Homo sapiens: one gene and its partners. The protein of the gene in region 1 interacts with the protein of each later gene in a pairwise test. Each region holds a gene or a part of one and is shown on either strand. Other genes may lie near its edges.

Region 1 (7,029 bases):
AATGTGGACTAGATGAATGTTATTTTTAGTTAGTTCTCACTAGAAATTAGTATTATAATATTCACAAGCTCTGACATAATGGATAGATAATATATCTTTAACAAGCCATTTTACACAAATCCTTTTAAATAAATTACACAGTCTACTCACTTGGGATTGAAACATTTTAAAACAAACTAAGCAAGAACTACATAATCTAAAGTGACTGTGTGACATATTAGAGAGGGGACTTTTAACAATTTTTTAAAGTAAATTTAATCACAGTTTCACTTTTTCTAATCATCTGGCATGTCAGCATGTCAGTTCCCTGCCCAGCCCTTTTTTTTTTTAATTTCCAGAAAGGCTCCCTAAAGTTTACAACTGGAAAATTTTGGAAGTAGAGTGTTTTTAGGGACATCTAGTGCAACCTCTGCTTTACAGATCAGTAAATGGAGGCCCAGAGATGACAAGTGACTTGATCCACAGCACAGAGCTGGAGAATGGCAAAGCCAGCATGGACGCCACACTTCCTCACTCCACTCCAGCCCTCTCCTCACTCTTCCATGCTGTCTTCTTTAGAAAGGTTCTCCTGGCAATGTGCTGGGTGATGCGGGATCATGCCAGGGTTCCACCGGTTCCCCACAGCAATCACCTATCTTCTGCTCAGTAGCTGGGCAGAGCATCCTTTACCAACCTCGCAGGAAGCTCTGGCTCAAGGGCACCAACCAGGTACAGTGTTAAAATGAAGGCTGGCACTGCCTAGGGGGAGTTCTCATGAACCTGTGGCTTCAGATCCCACCTGAGCCAGAACTGTCTTTATTCAAGTGTAAGGAGATCCACGTGAGATGTGGGGTGCGGACCCATCACTGGGTCCCCAACAATTGGGCAGGCCAGTCAGGATACCTCACCACCCCAATCCACTCTTCCCCAAAGAGCCTCCCTTACCGTCCAGCCATGGATCACCATGAAGGTTTTGCTGCTGTGATTGAAATGACAGGTAGCCACGGACTCTGCTACTCCGGGAATGAGGTGGCAAGTGTCCTCAGCTGTGTCTTCAGGGGTCCTTAGGGCAAATTTACTTTCGATGTCGATAAAATCTCTTCTTTCTGGAAAGGAAAAATTGGATATGAGGTTAACTGGAGGGTTGCTTGATTTTATTCATTGGAATGATATGTTTTAGGTTCACAGGCAACCACCGCTGATGCTATTTTTGTTTCTGAAGTGTTTTCGAAAACGAATGTGGATTGCAAGAGAACAACAGATGCTCCAACGTTGAGCAAAGTTGACAGAGAGACAACCTTAACTCTGAATTAAGATTGTCACCATTGACCTCTCCTAAGTCTTCCAGCCTTTCTTGAAGCTCTCCTTAGTCAGGGTATGTGTGTGTACGTTTGTGATTTCAACTAAGGGAACTGCTGTTTGGGGATTCCTTAGTTAATTCTGTCTTCTCTCAAGACATGAATTTAAGTGACTTGGCTGAGGCTACCCTGGTATTAGTGGGAGGGTGAGGATCAGAGCCCGGTCTCTCAGTTCCACTTTGAAGCTTGCTTTCGTGGAGAACACTGACTCATGCATGGCTCTTGTGTGCTATAGTTCCACTATTTGTGTGTGTGTGGGGCGGGGGGGGGGTTGTTTTGTTTTGTTTTGTTTTTTGAGACAGGGTCTTGTTCTGTGTCCCAGGCCAAAGGAGTGCAGTGGTGCGATCTTGGTTCACTGCACCCTCGAACTCAAGTGATCCTCCCACCTCAGCTTCCTGAGTAGCTGGGACCACAGGTGCGTGCCACCACGCCAGGCTAACTTGTATTTCTTGTAGAGATGAAGTTTGGCCATGTTGCCCAGGGTGGTCGCTATCTCCTGGGCTCAAGTGATCCACCCGCCTCAGCCTCTTAAAATGCTGGGATTACAGGCATGAGCCACCGGGCCTGGTTAATTTTTGGATTTTTAGTAGAGATGAGGTTTCACCATGTTGGCCAGGCTGTTCTCAAACTCCTGGCCTCAAGTGATTTGCCCACCTCAGCCTCCTAAAGTGCTGGGATTACCAGTGTGAGCCATCGGGCCGGGCCTCTATTTTTAATAAAATAATTTAAAAAAAATTTTTTAAAGAAAAGTTGGAAGCATGAGGAGGCTTTTGTATGAAACTGTTCCCACTCCTATGGCAAGATATACTTCAAAATGTTCTAAGAAATAATTTAGTAGGTTGTTCAGAAATACCCGTGCTATGTATCAGCCATGGTTAATTCTCTCCCCAAATATTTCTTTTCCCACTATGTCATTACAATGTTCCACACAAAGGCAAAACTTGAAAACCACAGCAAACCTTGTTGTTGAAAGGGTTCACTTTGGTTCTTCATAGTTAATCCCAAACTTGGTGAGAAGAGAAAGACAACCTAGTTTTTGAAACTATGGACAATAGTTATAAATGCTGCTGAATCTTCATGGGGTACAGTGAATAGTTGAAGTAAATTATATTGCAAATAAAATCAGACTTCATGAAGCAGAGCACAATCAAAGGGAAGTTATGTTAAAGGGAAATCATTTAATTCCTTTTCAAGTAAAGAAGTTAAAGAAAACGACCCATAACACCCACCTATTTACTGTAAGAAGGTAATAACTTGTAGATTTTAGATTTTGCCGTTCGAAATTTCAGGAGATTCATGAGGCTGCGAGGACTACTTCTCATTCCTTAATCTAAATTTGCTCTTTTTTTTCAACTCAAAATTTAAAAATCTGTAACTTCAAAATAACTGCGGAAGTCAGGCCAATAATAAAAATAAGAGTGTCATAGTGAGAACAGTGAAAGAATAGGCATTTGAATCAGCCTTATCTAAATATCTGAGGATTGGCCAACATTTTCCTATTGAGTAATTATTTTCTAAAATTCCTTAAACAATATTGTGGTTTAAGAAATATGCAATGAGTTGATCACACACACATACACACACACGTGCACACACACCTCCGTCATCTAAAATGTAGGAGAAATTTCTTAATGATTCTAATTATGAGAAAAGGAGTTTTGTTACAATGGGTAAACACTCCAAGATCACTTATTCAAATAAGAGTCTTGCTAAACTATTGATCTTTAAAGCTCTTTTCATTTGCATATAGTAAAAGTACACGTGAATCCATTCATCCACCAAGAATATGCTCTACTTCTCATCTTTATTTGAAGATGTTGGTAGCCTTCTTCCTTCCCAACCAGAAAGCACTCTAGTAGCTTTACTATTTCTCTGATAATGGAAGAGTATTGAATACTTTTAATCTAATTCTGCCTTCAGTGCCCAAGAACTTCTTTTCCTGTTAAAAAGTGCTTTAGAAAATTTAAAACTAATTTCACCCTCTCCCACACCTTTCCACCTTAAATAGCTCATACCTCCTCTCCACAGGTCTTATTTTAACATATTCTATGATCAATCTTTTTAAAGCAGAGATGATGTGAACAATCTGGCAGACAGATCTCGCTTACCACCTATTTGCCAAATTGACATTTTAAGAATAATGCTCAGTATAACTCCAGAGGCTGCCATTCACTTTTAGTCCACTTTCCCCTAGAATTATGCAACTTGGTGTCCCTGGAATTGCTGGTGGTTTTGAAATGACCACAAATTTTCTTTGAAATGACTAAGACTGGCTTTGTGTAGTTCCATGAAAAAAAGTCTATTCAATCCATAGATCCTGTACCAGATTGCATGTATGGCTCACTGACAGCTCCAATTTCCCTCTGTTGGGTCCAGAGTATGTAATGAAAAGTAGGAAATTTACACATCCTCTAGTAAATTTGTATTTAGAGACTTTCATTTCACTTTTAAAGAAAATGATTTTCATTTGACAGGAAAATATACCACTCTATGTGCTCTGTGATGGTTTCAATTCTATGTCAGACATGACATCATAAATCTTATCGGCACTTAGTCAAACTTTCCTTTTCTTGGATGTTCTGATAATTTTCACACTACCTGTGTTTGCAACCCCCCGAGGATGTCTCAGTGTCGTAAGATGAATATGCTTCCCAAACTTCAGTCAGCTCTCCAGTAACTGACTTAGACCATGTGGCTGTGGGGCAGTCAGTATATTTATTTGTCCCAATGCATCCTGTGATTGCTATTGGGCAGCAGGTGAACTGATTTGATGCAATTGTTACTAAGGAAACAGTTATTTTCCATACATGGAAATAATATTAGTGACTGCACTCATCCAACTAGACTGTCTTTTGCCATGTCCCTTAGAAATTAAGGCCACCTTAGAATTGAGAAAGAAGAGGAGTACAGGAGGGAGGGATGGAGGGAAGGAAGGAAGGAAGGAAGAAGGGGAAGGGGAAGGAAGGAGGGAAGGAAAGGCAGGCCTTCATTCTGAATTTAACTTAGCATCACCGTACCACCTGCCCATCAGGCCTCGTCAGAAATGTCCATATTAAGCCCTTAGGGGAGAGTTTTGGGTAACACGCAAGTTATAAATTGTGCCTTTCCTGACTATGGAATCTTTATTCCTAAATTCCTAAATAAATAACTACAAATCTGAGTGTGTAAACAAAGACAAAGAATTTATTCTAACATAGATAATAACTCACAGAGACGAAATTAGGCTGAGAAGTTAAAGCACGTAGAGAAAGATAAATGTATAGAGGGGAAGAGTGGTAATTCTTGTTGCTAGAAAGAGGGAAGTGTTGAGCATCCCAGGAAAGCAGCAGATGGTGCTTTAAAGGCAGATCAAAGTCATCACGTGAGTAAGATGAACATTTATGCAATGACATGAGGTACAAGAACTCAATGAGAATGCAATTCTCTTTGGAATTTCTGTTCTCCTGTTATCCCCCCACCCCTTTCTCTCTCTCTCCCCCCTTTTCTCTCACTCCTACAGGGCTTCCTCAGTAATTCATTTGCTCTCTGAGACTGATAGTCATAGTTATCGACTCAGGCAGTGTCTGTAGGATATCGAAGAACAAAGTGAATTACTGATGTGGTCGATTTGGTGAAGAAAAACATCAATATCATGATCAGACTGAATTGATTGGTCTGTTCAGATATTCTAACGTAAGTAATGCTCTTGACTTCTCTAACATGCAGCTTTACTTTATTTCATTTTATTTTATTATTATTTTTTGAAACGGAGTCTTGCTCTGTCACCCAGGCTGGAGTGCAGTGGCACGATCGTGACTCACTGCAACCTATGCCTCCTGGGTTCAAGCCATTCTCTGCCTCAGCCTCCCGAGTAGCCGGGATTACAGGTGCCTGCCACCACGCCTGGCTAATTTTTGTATTTTTAGTAGAGATGGGGTTTCACCATCCTGGCCACGCTGGTCTTGAACTCCCGACCTCATGATCCACCCGCCTCGGCCTCCCAAAATGCTGGGATTACAGGAGTGAGCCACTGTGCCAGCCTACTTTTTATTTTTATAAAAGTTGTTTTATTAATGGAATAGGAAAAATAAATCCTGTATGAATCATCTGAATTTTACCCTGAATTTTCTCCAATATTAGGGCTAACCTTCCACACTACTGAAAAAGAGGGGTTAAAAAATAGGTTCAGAGATGTGTATTAAAATTGCCCCACTGAATGAGACCATCAAGTGTGAATAAGCCATCATTATTTAAGGAGATCTTGTGGACTGGTTAATGAAATAATTTGGTTGAGTGTCATCACATAGGCATATTTCAGTCAAGATTTTTTAAGTGAAATACAAAATACTTACCTGGTTAATCTGAGACTACTTTCTTCTTGTTGCTGAGGATGGCAAATGGAAACATCCAGTTGTCTCAAACTAACACAATGAAAGTCCATGATTACTTTGCCAACAATTGTTTTATTGGAGGGAGGGCTGAATAAACATGGGGACGCTATTCTTTTTAGTTAAAATGTAAGTGCTAACTCCTATACTGTTTTTCACCGTAATTAATTCTGCAGCCAATTTTTTTTCAAAGGTACATTATTGATGTCATGATAGCTGTATCTTGAATGAAGGGCTGTTGAGGATCTCTAAGTGCAGATCCATTTACCTACATTCACCACCATCCCTCCGAAAGCATCTGACTTTTCATGCTACTTAAAAGCTTCTCTAAACTTTGTACTACACTCAAATTAATCCAAGCCAGAATGGTATTACCCCTACCTGACTGCATAGAAAGAGACTTCAACATTTACGAAAATACAGATGAGCGCACACACCAAAGTGGGTTGAGTGCTGTGAGCAAGGTGGCTGGATTAGACACAGTGTGGCCACGCCAACTGGGTCATCTTTGTTCTATTCTACTGTCAAATAATGGTGGGAGACGTTTTCGTTTATTCATTCAAACAGTCAAAATCACCACACTACTTAGATAGCATTTGATCATTCTGAGAGCACAGACTGGGAAGAGCAAAAGGAATGAATTGGCACAAGTTTAATAGGCTCACTTCCGGCAGAACTTACATATATATATAGCACCTAAGATAATCCATTCCTTCCTTCCTAGTAGATACCTGTTGTTGAGTACGCAAATGGTGTCAGTGCACACAGACAATCTTAAAATGGCCACAAGACAGCAAACTGCAGTCACGCAGTCTAGTGAACAGACATCGTTCAGAGTAAATTTCAAACTCTTAGCCTCTGAGTAAGTTGGAACCCTATCCTATTAGTCCTTCAGAAACTATTGGAGCCTTCAACTTTTGCAAAGACAGAATGTGACAAAAGCACTGTGACAAGAATTTTACTCCCAGGTTAGAAAGTCTCTGTTGATAAAAGGTATTTAGTTCACTGTGGTGACAAACTCATTTAATGGATAGATGATCCCAAAGCTTTACACTGATAAGTGTTTTTGTTGTTTTTATTGCCATAAAAGTTGGAATTTACCTTATTAGTAAATCCAAATGGTCTCTTCATCCAGACCTTAAAAAATCATGATACTCATGTCTTGAATACTTTCCTTACACTTTGTGATCCAAAATCATCACCAACCATCATTTTGATGGCTGGAACATCTTCATATTTAAGTCAATGCAGTCTTTGTGGTGGTCACGGAAGAAACTAGCTGCAAAATATTGTAAGTTGCAAGGCATTTTCTTGAACAATCTGGC
Region 2 (7,029 bases), on another chromosome or scaffold:
GTGGGGAGATGGTCAGTTTTGAGTGTCAACTTGGCTGGGCTATAGTACCCAGTTATTTAATCAAACACTAAGCTTGCTGTTGCAGTGAAGGTACTGACTTTGAATAAAGGAGACTACCCTCCATAGCATGGGTGGGCCTCATGCAATCAGGTGAAGGCCTTAAAAGCAAAAACTGTGGTTTCCTGGAGAGGAAAAAATTCTGTGCCAGGACTGCAGTGTCAACTCCTCCTAGGTCTCCAGCCTGTTCACCTGCCCTGGAGATTTCAGACTTGCCAGCCCCACAGTAATGTGAGCCAGTTCCTTAACTCTCTTTATACATATATCTGTATCTAACCTATCAGTTCTGTTTCTGTCTGATTGATACAGGATGTGAAGCTGGGAGAAGGCTGATGTCCTGGGTGAAAAGCTAGTGTTCTAAGTGAAGAAAGAAAAATTGTTATTTCCATCATCTTTTGTTGCCTTGTTGTCTCATGATGTAGAGTTGGTAATGATCAAGCTCTTCCTAACAAAGGGTAAGAAATTGACATCTGAATAACTGAGCAAAATATTTTACTTTTGAAAACATTCTTTTTTTTTTTTTTTAAGACGGAGTTTCATTCTGTCACCCAGGCTGGAGTGCAATGGTTCAATCTTGGCTCACTGCAACCTCCGCCTCCTGGGTTCAAGAGATTCTCCCGCCTCAGCCTCCGGAGAAGCTGGGATTACTGGCGCATGCCACCACACCCGGCTAATTTTTGTATTATTAGTAGAGATGGGGTTTCACCATGTTGGCCAGGCTGGTCTCAAACTCCTGACCTCAAGTGATCCACCTGCCTTGACCTCCCAAAGTGGAAAACATTCTTAAATATATGAAATCTCACCTCTAGTGACCTGTCATGTCGAAAGCCCCAAACGCAAGCTGCAACAGACACCGGGGAAACAAAGAACAGCGGCATGAAGACCAGGAGCCAGAAATGGCTTCCTCTCTCGATTCTGTCACAGACCAGAACTTCAAACATCAACAAGAGCAAGTGGATGCCCACTGCAATCAACATGGCTTTAAACTCCACACACGTTTCTCCTTCTGCTCTAAAAAAGGGAGAGAAGAAGAAAACACCCTCAGTTCAGAATCTCCACTATAAGCAAGCAGTTCAGGGCAAATACCAACTTATATTTATACTTTGAATTTTACTTGAAAATTTGACAAAAGCAAAGGGAAATCAGGTAGAAAGCTAACTTAAACCTAAGCTTTGGTAGGCAATCTCTGAAACATCGAAGAACTACTACATAATACAAAATGAACATTACAACCAAACCAGAATTTAATGTTTTAACCGTATAAGGATATTCTCAAAAGTAATAGCCAGTTCTTATTTCCCTGACAATGTACATAAACACTTCTGTTCACATCTTTAAATTCAACAACAAGAGTTACTTCCAAGATTATTCAAGCTGATTTGCTTCTGCTGCTAAAACCAGGCAAATACCCCTTAAGTCTCATGATCCTCATTTTTCAAGAAACCATGTAAACCACCCTTCACACAATATTATAAAAATAACTCTAGTTCTATGAACAAGTGCCAGTTATATTTCAAGATAGTAGTAACTATTGTTAGGTGCTATTTTTAAATGCAAATAAAACGTATAAATGATTTTCATTTTCCTTTCTATTCCATTAAGATAAATTAACACCTGCACATGAAAGAGAAAGAAGAACAAGAGTTAAAACTGTTCTCAAACAAAATCAGTTTAATTAGCTAAGTATCATGCACAATAACCTTAACAGATCTACAATTGAGCAATGGTAAGGCCGCTAATCAGGAAAAGGCTCTATAATGCATCTGAAAGGCCTACAATGTTTATTCAAAATACAGATGAACATTTATGATATACATGTATTGTGGGTGACAAATACACCGGAAGTTAGATCATAGAGAAAATGCTATCAGAGGTTATTCCTGTAGGACCCAACCATGTTCCACTGGTTAATGTTAACATGAGAATGACCACGCCTGTACATTCCTTACATTCAACCCCACATACACAATTCCTTTCCTTGCTCAAAACATCTTAAATAAGACCAACAAAGAGAAGTTTGAATATATTCTAAATATCAATTAGTAGAACCTAAATGTTTATTTAACTTTGCATTCTTTGAGAAGCAATTAATATTAGATATCTGAAAATATCTCATAAAAAAATAAAACACATACAGCCACACAGGTCATCAATCTTTCAAAAAAAATCTAAGAACTCTGAAACAGCTATACATGAATGTCCCTCACCTGCCAAGGCTCTCTGTGTAACTGTTTTACAGTTCTTAGACATGTATGTGATATGTAATTTACACAATCTGAATCATTTTCATATTTAGTAAACAAAAATTTAAAAAGTTGATGTAGTGGCCGGACGTGGTGGCTCACACCTGTAATCCCAGCACTTCAGGAGGCCAAGGCGGGTGGATCACCTGATGTCAGGAGTTCAAAACTAGCCTGGCATGGTGAAACCCTATCTCTACTAAAAATACAAAAAATTAGCTGGGCATGGTGGCAGGTGCCTGTAATCCCAGCTACTCAGGAGGCCGAGGCAGGAGAATCACTTGAACCCGGGATGTGGAGGCTGCAGTGGGCCGAGATCACACCATTGCACTCCAGCCTGGGCAACAAGAGCGAAACTCTGTCTCAAAAAAAAAAAAAAAAAAAAAAAAAAAAAAGGTGCGGTAGTTTCAACTTTACACTTTTCCCACATGAGCAGCTGCCTTCTGGGAATTCCTGTACTCCTCATTTTCCCAGTGGAGGTTCATAATAGCCTCCCAGTCTTAAGTCCCCCTTTTTCCCTTTATGTAGTTACAGTCTCTGTGGCAGAGAAGGGAAAGACTCTCGCAGGTCCCAGCAACAAGCAGGTTGCATGCTGGCGTGAGCCAACTCCCAGGAATTTGGGCCAGCGGAGGCATCCAAGAGCAGGGAGGGCAAGAGTTGGAAACGGTAAAGGGTACCCCTCTCCCCTGCCCCCAAAGGCTCTGCTTTCCTTCTCGGCATCCAATCTTTGACTTTCCTCATTCCCCAGCTGCTGTCTCAGGGACTCATGGTCTCCTGGTCAAGCCACCTCCCCTACACTGCTAATAGTCCTAAAGCTCTGGGACTAGGAGGGTGGGACAAGGGGAGCCCCAGTTCCAAAACTGTATTGGAGAAAGATCTTTCATGACCAAACATAATATGAGTGTCTTTTCCTAAAAACAGGGTGGTTTCATGCTGCTTAGTCTAGTATGGCATACCAGTTCTGTATTTTGGGTGCATTTTGGATTATATAGGCATCTGTGAGCTGGCTGGCAACTTACCCCCAAATGGCACTGCTTTTGTAAGAAAATACATACCAAAGACTAAATTTTCAAAAACACAGAAGAGATCTGTTAGCTTATACTATAGTTCTAAGACCCCAGATAGGTAGAAAATAAAATGGTCCTTACTTCATCAAAAGTGAGAAAAGTCAAGATATTGCTCCCTCATGCTAGAGACCAATGGGTTGTATAAAGCAGTATTACCGATATTGAGGATTTCGTGCCCAGACTCCAGTTCCAACTGAGGCTCCAACAATGACCATTAACTTCCACAGCCATATTGGAGCAAAGACAGCCCAGTAACTCCACTGTATGATGCCATCCAAACGAAGGGCCAGCAGCACAGAGAACAGCAGCAGACAGGCATAGATGAGGAATTTACTAGGAGAAAAGTAAAACGATTAAGAAGGATTCACTTTTACAAATATGTGATACTGAAATGGGGAGTAATAAGAGCCACATTTGTCAGCATGTAAAAGGAGTCACTAACTCAATAATCATTTATTGAAAAGGTCTATGGGGCAGACATAATGTGTTGGGAATAAAAGAAACATAAAGAAGACTAAAATAAGTCTCCTGCTTTCCAAGGCTTCCTCATAGAAGGAAGACCACACAGAAACATATAATACAGCACAATGTTTGTGATGAGAGCTTGGAAGAGGAAATACAGACTGTGTCTGAGGAGGCACTCAGAAGCAGAGATGTGGTGACCCTAGAGCTGGTTCCAGAGGGCAAGTAGGAAGCTGCCAGGCAGGAAAGCAAGTGAGATGAGGAAGTATTCCAGGCAGAAGGAACTAGCTATACCAAGACACAGAGACTGGAAAAGGCTGACATGCTCTGAAAATGGTCAAGTTCTATCACTAACTGATTCTATTTCTAAAAAGGCAGCCATCTGTCATATTCATATGGCATGAACATTTTAGTGTATGTATTATACTTTCCATGAATGAATAAATTACACATACACACATGCTCACGTCTCATATAAAAGGGAATTGCTACAGAGGATGTCCTTGAAATAATTAGAAATTATACTCTTGAGGACCTCTATTTCCAGCCTTGACTTAATAATAGGAATATAATTTACCTTCCCGCCTAAATAAGAAGCTTGATACAGTCTACAAAAGAACAGTTTTCAGACATTGACAACAGGCAGTGGAGAACAGGTGAGAAGGAGGAAATAAAGGAGGTAAACCCTACTATTGCCCCAGTTTGCAGATCAGAGGCAGTTTCCAGGCTGCAGCAAGAAAACAGTTAAAACTCAACCCTGTCAATAACTATATTAAATATAAATGGCCAACTGAAAGACAAAGATGATCAGATTGGATAAGTAAGCAAGACAACTATATGCTGTCTGTAAGAATCCCACTTTATCTATCTATAAAGACACAGATAGATTAAAAGCAAAAGGAAAGAAAAAGTTATACCAAATAAACACTAACCAAAAGAAAGCTGGAATGACTATATTAATATCTGTTTAGTCTTCCATTGCTGCTGTAACAAATTACCACAAACTTAGCAGCTTAAAACAACGTAAATTTATTATCTCACAGTTCTATATGACAAAAGGCGAGACGGGCTTGGTTGGTTTCTCTACTCAGAATCTCACAAGGCTGAAATAAAGATGTCTGTTGGTGGAATGCTTATCAGGGGACTCTGGCAGAATCTACTTCTAAGCTCATTCAGGTTGTTGGCAGAATCCAGTTTCTTGTGGTTGTAGGACTGAGGTATGTGTCTCTTTGCTTGCTGTCACGCAGCAGCTGATCTTGCGATAGTAGGGGCCTCTCCTGGGTCCTTGTAAATAGGCCCCTACATCTCAAAGCCAGTAACAAGCTATAGCATATTCAATCTTTCTCATGCTTGGGATGTTTTCTCACTACTTCTGCCATATCGCTTCTGCTTCCACTGAGAGAAAGTTCTCCGCTTTTAAGAGTTCATGTGATGAAACTGAGTCCACCTGGTTAAGCCAGGCTACTCTCCCTATTTTAAGGTCCATAACTGTGGTTGGTAGGCAGAATTCTAAAGAAGTTTCCCAGGATTCCTGTCCCCTGATTATTCAATCAAACACTAATCTGAGTAATACTGTGAAGGGACTTTGCAGATGGAATTAAGGTTACTAATCAGCTAACTTTACAATAGGAAGATTATACTGGATTATCCAGGTGTGCCCAGTGTAATCACATAAGCCCTTAAGAAAGCAGAAGAGTAAGTCAGAGAAATGTGGTGGAAGAGAGATGAGGCAGAAGTCAGAGAGATTCCAGACTTGAGAAGGATTCAGCCTGTTACTTCTGGCTTTGAACATGGAGGTAAGGAACCATGAGCCAAGGAATGCAGGCAGGCTTCAGAAGCTGAGAATAACTCGCAGCTGACAGCCAGCAAGGTAAATGGGACCTCAGCCCTACAACCCCAAGGAACTAAATTCTGACAATAGCCCAAATGTGCTTGAAAGCAGATTAATCCCTGGAGGCTCCAGAAAGGAATAGAGCCCTCCTGACACTTTGATTTTGACCCTGTGAAACTAGGCAGAAGACCCATCTGAGTTGTGCTGTACCCGGACTTCTGACCTAAAGAACTGAGAGTAATTTGTCATGGTAACAGCAGAAACGAATGCTAATAAATATAGCTTCAAAGTCCCCTTTGCCATGTAAAATAATAACATATTCACAGGTTTCAGGGCTTAGGGCCTGGGTATCTGTGTATTTGTGGGGGTGGGGCATTCTGCCTACCACAACATAAGACACAGTATATTTTTGAACAAGGACTATTTCCAGGGACAAATAGAGGTAGTTCATAATGATAAAGGGGTCAATTTGTCATATGCCTAATAACAAAGTTTCACAATACATGTAGAAAGTACTGATCAATCTAAAAGGAGAAATAAAAAAATCAAACTGTTATAAATGGAAATTAACATTCCTTTCTTAGTAACTAATAGAACACATAAACAGAAAATTACTAAGGATATATATGATTGTAGCAACACTATCAACCAACTTGACCTAATTAATATTAATGAGTTCCTCCCAACAAAAGCAAAATACAGATTCCTTTCAAACACACACGGAACATTCACCAAGATAGATTGAATTCTGGGCCATAAAACAAAGCTCAACAAATTTAAAAGGACTGAAATCATACAAAGTAAACAAGCACAATGGAGTCAAACTAGAAATCAACAATAGAAAAATATCTGGAAAATTCTCAAAATACTTGAAAATTAAATGCCACACTGCGAAATAATCCATAGGTCAAAGACTATGAAGAAAATTGAAAAATATTTTGGACTAAAGGCAAAAACACAATATACCAAAATTTGTGAGATACACTAAAGCAGTACTTAAGGGAAATTTTAGCATCAAATACTTACATTAGAAAAGATATCAAGTCAATAATCTAAGATTCTATCTTATGAAACTAGAAAGAACATGGAGGTAAGGAACCTCCATGTAAGAAACGGAAGGAAATTTGTAAAAAGTAAATGGAAAGAAGAAAATGATAAATGTAAGCACATTAATCAATAAAATACAGTAAAAAGGGATTAGAGAAAAAAATCAATGAAACTAAAAGCAGTTTCTTTGAGAAAGTAAGAAAATTGGTAAATCTACAGCCAGAATAATCAGTAAAAAAGAGTAGGCTCAAATTACTAATATCAAGAATGAAAACAGGGATATCACTACAAATCCTAATAATACTAAAGGGATAAGTAGGGGATA
Region 3 (7,029 bases), on another chromosome or scaffold:
AACATGAAGGCCTTGGCCGGGGTTTTTTTTGATAGAACAGAACTTGATCGGAAAGAAAAATTGACCTTTACTGAATCCACACATGTTGAAATTAAAAACTTCTCGACAGAAAAGTTGTTACAACGAATTAAAGAGATTCTCCCTCAATATGTTTCTGCATTTGCAAATACTGATGGAGGATATTTGTTCATTGGTTTAAATGAAGATAAAGAAATAATTGGCTTTAAAGCAGAGATGAGTGACCTCGATGACTTAGAAAGAGAAATCGAAAAGTCCATTAGGAAGATGCCTGTGCATCACTTCTGTATGGAGAAGAAGAAGATAAATTATTCATGCAAATTCCTTGGAGTATATGATAAAGGAAGTCTTTGTGGATATGTCTGTGCACTCAGAGTGGAGCGCTTCTGCTGTGCAGTGTTTGCTAAAGAGCCTGATTCCTGGCATGTGAAAGATAACCGTGTGATGCAGTTGACCAGGAAGGAATGGATCCAGTTCATGGTGGAGGCTGAACCAAGTTGAGAGCGGGGGATTCGCAACAGGAATGCATTTGGCTTGGGTGGCAGGGAGGTTTTCTCTATGGGATCTGGGGCAAGATCAATAGTCCTCAAATTTCAGCACCTAAACTATTAATCCCTGGTGGATACAATCAATAGTTCCCTGCCTCGGCCAGGCGCGGTGGCTCACGTCTGTATTCCCAGCACTTTGGGAGGCCAAGGCGGGCGGATCACGAGGTCAGGAGATAGAGACCATCCCTGGCTAAGATGGTGAAACCCCGTCTCTACTAAAAATACAAAAAATTAGCTGGGTGTGATGGCACGTGCCTGTAGTCCCAGCTACTCAGGAGGCTGAGGCAGGAGAATCGGTTGAAGCCAGGTGGCGGAGGTTGCAGTGGGCGGAGATTGCGCCACTGCACTCCAGCCTGGGCAACAGAGCGAGACTCCATCTCAAAAAAAAAAAAAAAAAAAAAAAGTTCCCTGCCTCTTGTTTTCTTCTATACCCTTAGAAGAAGATAGATATTTCATAAAATAAGCACATCATCTACTTTTAGTAGCCCTACCTGGTGCAAAAACCCAATTAAACCTGGAAGTTTCTTCCCTACCACGTCTATACTAGTTTTGAAGGAAACCCCGTTTAATCCTTTTCCTTTTTGTTTCTGAGCTCTATTTCAGTAAGTAACCATTGCTTTCTTTCAGGAACATTTGCCTCTTTTACTTACTTGCTCCTTCATGCTTCTTGTCCCCTTTCTATTTATTTATTTATTTATTTATTTATTTATTTATTTATTTATTTATTTTGAGACGGAGTCTTGCTCTGTCACCCAGGCTGGAGTGCAATGGCAGGATCTCGGCTTACTGCAACCTCCGCCTCCTGGATTCAAGCGATTCTCCTGCCTCAGCCTTCCGAGTAGCTGGGATTACAGGTGCCCGCCACCACGCCCAGCTAAATTTTTGTATTTTTAGTAGAGACGGAGTTTCACCATGTTGGCCAGGCTGGTCTCGAACTCTTGACCTCAGGCAATTCACCCGCCTCGGCCTCCCAAAGTGCTGGGATTACAGGCGTGAGCCACCATGCCTGGCGTCCCTTTCTATTTATTTCCTATAAAACCGCTTCCTTTTTCTTCTCACATTTGTGAGCCAAGTAGTAGCCCTAATTTGTACTAGTAAGGAAGGAATAATGCTGGTATTTTCTCTGCGTTTGGGAAAAGAAAGCCTCAAATGAAATTGGACCAGTACTAGCAATTGGACCAGTACTAGCAGCTTATAAAATGTCTGAAAATGTAAGCTTCTTCCTCAGAATCTGCACAAAAGTCAGCTTTCCTTCACTAGCCATCACGTCTCATTTTAACTGCTTTAAAAATAAACCCAATTATATGGTAATGTATTAAATTACTATTAATGCATTTTTACTGTTAATTTTCATTTGAAATATAGTGTGTCAGTGGCATCAAAAGTTAATTTTGCAATTTGTATCTGACCTAAGAATCTAACCACAATATCTAACATTAATTTTTTTTTGGAAAACAGAATCAGTTACAAGTAGACTTTTAATATATAATACTATGCATTAGTTAGTTGGGGTCTCCCTTCTGCGAAATTAAGAATGTGATATTTTTGTTTTTAAGAATTTTCCAGTTCATATGAAGAGGTGATCTCTCAAATAAATACGTCATTACCTGCTCCCCACAGTTGGCCTCTTTTGGAATGGCAACGGCAGAGACATCACTGTCCAGGTAATTTCATTCTGGCTTCTTCGGATTTGTTAGTGTGACTGTAGTCAAACCTCTTTCTCTTCAAACCAGCTCAGTCTTGAAATTTGCTCTGAAAGCACATTCTTGTGTTTATGAGAATTCTTTGGTGTTTTAAGTCATTGAATCTGTCAAATCCTATTTCTTTATATTTGGGTTAGAATTTTCTTGGTGCAATACAAACTCGTTTACTTGAAAGTAAGAGCAACCCAAGTCAGTTTAGTTTAAACAAACAAAAAAAGAAAGCATATATATCATGTCACTGAGCAGTCTAGATTGAGGCCCACCTTCAGGCATAGCTATGTTCAGTTACTGAAGAAACGCCATCAGTACTCAGGATCTCTGATTGATCTATCTGTTTTTGTTGTTGTTGTTGATGATGGGCAATTGAGTTATTTCCTGCTTTCTGTGACATGAACAGTGTTACCTTGAACATTCTTAGTCGGTCTTCTAGTGCATATGTGCAAGATTTTCTCCTGGGTGCCTAAGTAGGAGTAGAATTGTTGGCTCAGGAGGTGTGTGAATATTCAAGTAATAAGATAATGCCAAATTGTTTTGAAAGTAGATAGGTCATGTTACTCCCATCAGCAATATATTAGAAATGCCACATCTTCTCCAGTTGTCAAATTTTTCTTATTTATGGTTGTCCTTCTCTTGACCTCCTTCTTCTCAATCAAATGTGTATAAAATGGTATGTCTTTGTGATGTGCATTTCCCTGGTTATTGATTGGGTTGAGCATCTCTCCATATACTTACTGGCCATATATATTTCATCTTCTGTGCAGTGTCTATTTTGTCTTTGACCATTTTTCTAATAAGCTTTGTCTTTTTCTTATTGATTTATAGGAGTAATTTAGAGATTCTAGAATAAAATCCTCTTTTAGTCATAGGTATTAACGACTACCAAATGTTTTCTCCAAGCTGGTGGCTTGCATTTTCTCTTTTCTTAAGGTATACTCTCATAAGTAGTAGTTTTAAATTTTAATGTAGGCAAAACTATCATTTAAAATGTTGCGGTTTAGTGCTCTTTGTGCCTTGCATAAGAGATCCTTCTATACACTAGGATTATAAAGATATTTCTTTTAATTTTCTCCTAAAAATTTTAAAGTTTTGCACTCAACATTTAACATGTAAATACACAATCCAGAGGTGGGCGGATCACTTGAGGCCAAGAGAACAGCCTGGCCAACATGGTGAAGCCGTGTCTCTACTAAAATACAAAAATTAGCCAGGTGTGGTGGTGCACACCTGCAGACCCAGCTACTCAGGAGACTGAGGCACAAGAATCATTTGAATCCAGGAGGCGGAGCTTGCAGTGGGCTGAGATCACACCACTGTACTCCAGCCCAGGCAACAGCGTGAGACCTTGTCTCAGTAAGTAACAAACAAACAAACAAACAAATAAATAAATACACAATCCATCTCAATAGACAGTAATGTAGCATGCTATTTCATTTTATTCCATGTGGATAACAACTTTCCCAGCCGCAATACTGAAAAGTCTCACTTTCACCATGATCTGCCATGCCACCTTCATCATATTACTAAGTACAATTCACCTTTGAACAAAAGGTGCAGTCGAAAATCGGTGTATAACTTTTGACTTTCCAAAAAGTTAACTACTAATAGCTTACTTTTGACCCAAAGCCTTACCAATAACGTAGTCAATTAACACATATTTTGTGTGTATCATATACTATATTCTTACAATAAGTATCATATACTATATTCTTACAATAAAGTAAGCTAGAGAAAAGAAAATGTTATTGAGAAAGTCATAAGGAAGAGGAAATATATTTTCTATAAATTAGGTGTAAATGGATCATTTAGAGGTCTTCGTACTCATTGCCTTCACGTTGTGTAGGCTGAGGAAGAGAAGGGTTGGTCTTGCTATCTTGGGGTGGCAGAGGTGGAAGAAGATCTTGGCGTAAGTGGACCCATGCAATTCAAACCCATGTTGTTCAAGGGTCAACTGTATATCTATAGATAATCCTCTTTCTAGAATCTCTATTATGTTTCCTTGATCAAATTGTCTGTCCCTGCCACTGTAATGTTATACTAAGTATCGATATCTGGTAGGGTAAGCCCTTTAGTTTTTCTTTGAGAGTGTCTAGGCAATTTTTAATCATTTAATCTTCTATACACACTTTAGAATCTGCTTAAATGCCAAAAAAACTTTTGGGATTTTGATTTGCAGTTACAGTGCATCTCTAGATAGATTTGGGAAGACATGGCATATTTATATCAGTAAGTTGTATCCTTGAGTATAGGAAATCTTTTTACTTATTTATATCTTCTTTAATGCCTTTATAGTTTCATAAATTTCTGTGTACACATTTTGTACATCTTTTATTACACTTATGTCTAGGTTCCTTTTATTTTTGTTGTTGTAAAGATATTTTTTTTAAAAGTTCCATTTTCTTGTTTATTGCTAATGTGTAGAAATGCAGTTGATTTTTACATACTGAGTTTATATAAGGCCACATTGTTAGGTTTCCTTATTATTTTAAATAATCTGTCCATAGATTATTTACATTTTGTATAAACAAATATGCAGATCATAAAATGTTTTGTCTTTTCCTTTCCAATCTTTCTGCCTTTAATGTCTTTTTTTCTTGTCCTAATGAACTGAAGAAAACTTTTAGACAATTCTTAATGCAAATAGTCTTAGTTCAGATTTTAAAGAGAGTGTGTCTATGGCTTTCCCATTTAAATTGAGGTTTGCCCAACATGGCACATGTATACCTATGTAACAAACCTGTGCATTGTGCACATGTACCCCAGAACTTAAAGTATAATAATAAAAAAAAGAAATTGAGGTTTGCCTTAGGTACTTTGAATATACCATTATCAGGCTAAGGAAGTTTAATGATATTTCTAGTTTACTAAATGTTTTTTCTTTTTTTATCATGGATGAATACTGAATTTTATCAAACACATTTTCTACTCCTGTTGACATGATTAAATGTTTTTAATATGTTGATTGGCAAATGATGTTTAATATTTTCTATTAAGCCTTTTTTGCATTCCTGGAACAAACTCAGTTCGGTCTTGCAGTATTATCTTTTTTATGCATTTTTATTCAGCTGCTAATACTTAATTTAGAATTTCTGTATCTAAATCCATGAGTGACAAGGTCTAAGAATAGTTTTCTCTCTTTCTTTGTCTAGTATTTGTATTAAAATTGTGCTGAACTCAGAATGAGTTGGGGATTATTTCCTCTTTTCCTATCCTTTGAAAAAATTTATATAAGATTAGAATGATATGCTTGAAATTGTGGTGGAATTTGCCTGTAAAATGGTTTGTCTTCCTTTTGTGGGAAGACTGTTAGTTCTTTTTTCAATCAGGAACTGGCTCTGTCACCCAGGCTGAAGTGTAGCGGTGTGATCATGGCTCACTGCAGCTTCAAGCTCTTGGGCTCAAGTGATCCAACTGCCTCAGCCTATCAGGGCTCTAGGATTACAGGCTTGAGCCACTGTGCCTGACATATTTCTGGTTTTTTAATAAAAGGGTTGCCTACTCTTTCTGTTTCCTTCGGTGTTAATTTTGGTAAGATATTTTTAAGGAATCCTAAATTCAATAGCTGGCATCTCAGTATTAGTCTGACTTATATTTCAGATCCTTATTTCAGGCTATTTTTATTTTCTTGTGAGAACAAAGCAGATTGGTTTCAAAAATTTATTTACTTTGTGTAGTAAGTACTTTTAAAATGTATGCTTTTTCTAGGTATCTTATATGTTAATTTTTAAAATTTTTATTTCACTAGTTTTTGGGGAACAAGTGGTTTATGGTTACATGAATAAGTTCTTTAGTGGTGACTTCTGAGATTTTGGTGCAGCTATCACCTGAGCAATGTACACTGTACCCAGTGTGTAGTCTTCTATCCCTCATTCCCCTTCCACCCTTCCCCTTGAGTCCCCAAAGTCCTTTGTATCATTCTTAGTCTTTGTGTCCTCATGGCCTAGCTCCCACTTATGAGTGAGAACATACAATATTTGGTTTTCCATTCCTGAGTTACTTCAGTTAGAATAATGGTTCCCACCCCATTCAGGTTGCTGTGAATGCCATTATTTCATTCCTTTTTATGACTGATAGCATTCCATGGTGTATATATACCACATTTTCTTTATCCACTTGATGGCTGATGGGCATTTAGGCTGGTTCCATATTTTTGGAATTGCAAATTGTACTGCTATAAATGTGTGTGCAAACATCTTTCTCATGTAATGACTTATTTTCCTCTCAGTAGATACCCAGTAGTGGGATTGCTGGAGCAAATGGTAGTTCTACTTTTAATTCCCTAATGAATCTCCACACATTTTTCCACAGTGGTTGTAATAGTTTACATTCACACCAGCAGTATAAAAGAATTCCCTTTTCAGTGCATACTTGCCAACATCTATTATTTTTTGACTTTTAATTATGGCCATTCTTGCAGGTGTAAGATGGTCTCATTGTGGACTTAATTTTCATTTCCATGATCATTAGTGATGTTGAGCATATTTTCATGTTCATTGGCCATTTGTATATCTTCTTTTGAGAATTGTCTATTTATATCCTTTGCCCACTTTTTGATGGGATTCTTTGTTTTTTTCTTGCTGATTTGTTTGAGTTCCTCATAGATTCTGGATATCAGTCATTTGTCAGATGCATAGGTTGCAAATATTTTCTCCCACTCTGTGGATTGTCTTTTTACTCTGCTATTTCTTTTGCTGTGCAGAAGCCTTTTAGTTTAGTTACTTCTCATCTATTTATTTTTGTTTTTGTTACATTTGCTTTTGGGT

The links. The genes of interacting proteins can lie anywhere in the genome.
Region 2: the proteins of LPL (region 1) and TMEM185A interact in binary tests that used the Homo sapiens proteins (3 or more experiments, as listed by UniProt).
Region 3: the proteins of LPL (region 1) and SLFN12 interact in binary tests that used the Homo sapiens proteins (3 or more experiments, as listed by UniProt).

What each region holds. Positions count from the first base shown.
Region 1 is NC_000008.11:19,942,236-19,949,264, reverse strand, and holds part of LPL (lipoprotein lipase precursor), read right to left. Parts: intron 1,086-7,029; coding exon 925-1,085; intron 1-924. UniProt on the Homo sapiens protein: Key enzyme in triglyceride metabolism.
Region 2 is NC_000023.11:149,607,767-149,614,795, forward strand, and holds part of TMEM185A (transmembrane protein 185A), read right to left. Parts: intron 3,698-7,029; coding exon 3,521-3,697; intron 1,069-3,520; coding exon 861-1,068; intron 1-860.
Region 3 is NC_000017.11:35,415,475-35,422,503, reverse strand, and holds part of SLFN12 (ribonuclease SLFN12), read left to right. Parts: coding exon 1-514; intron 515-2,122; coding exon 2,123-2,230; intron 2,231-7,029. UniProt on the Homo sapiens protein: Ribonuclease which is part of an E2/17beta-estradiol-induced pro-apoptotic signaling pathway.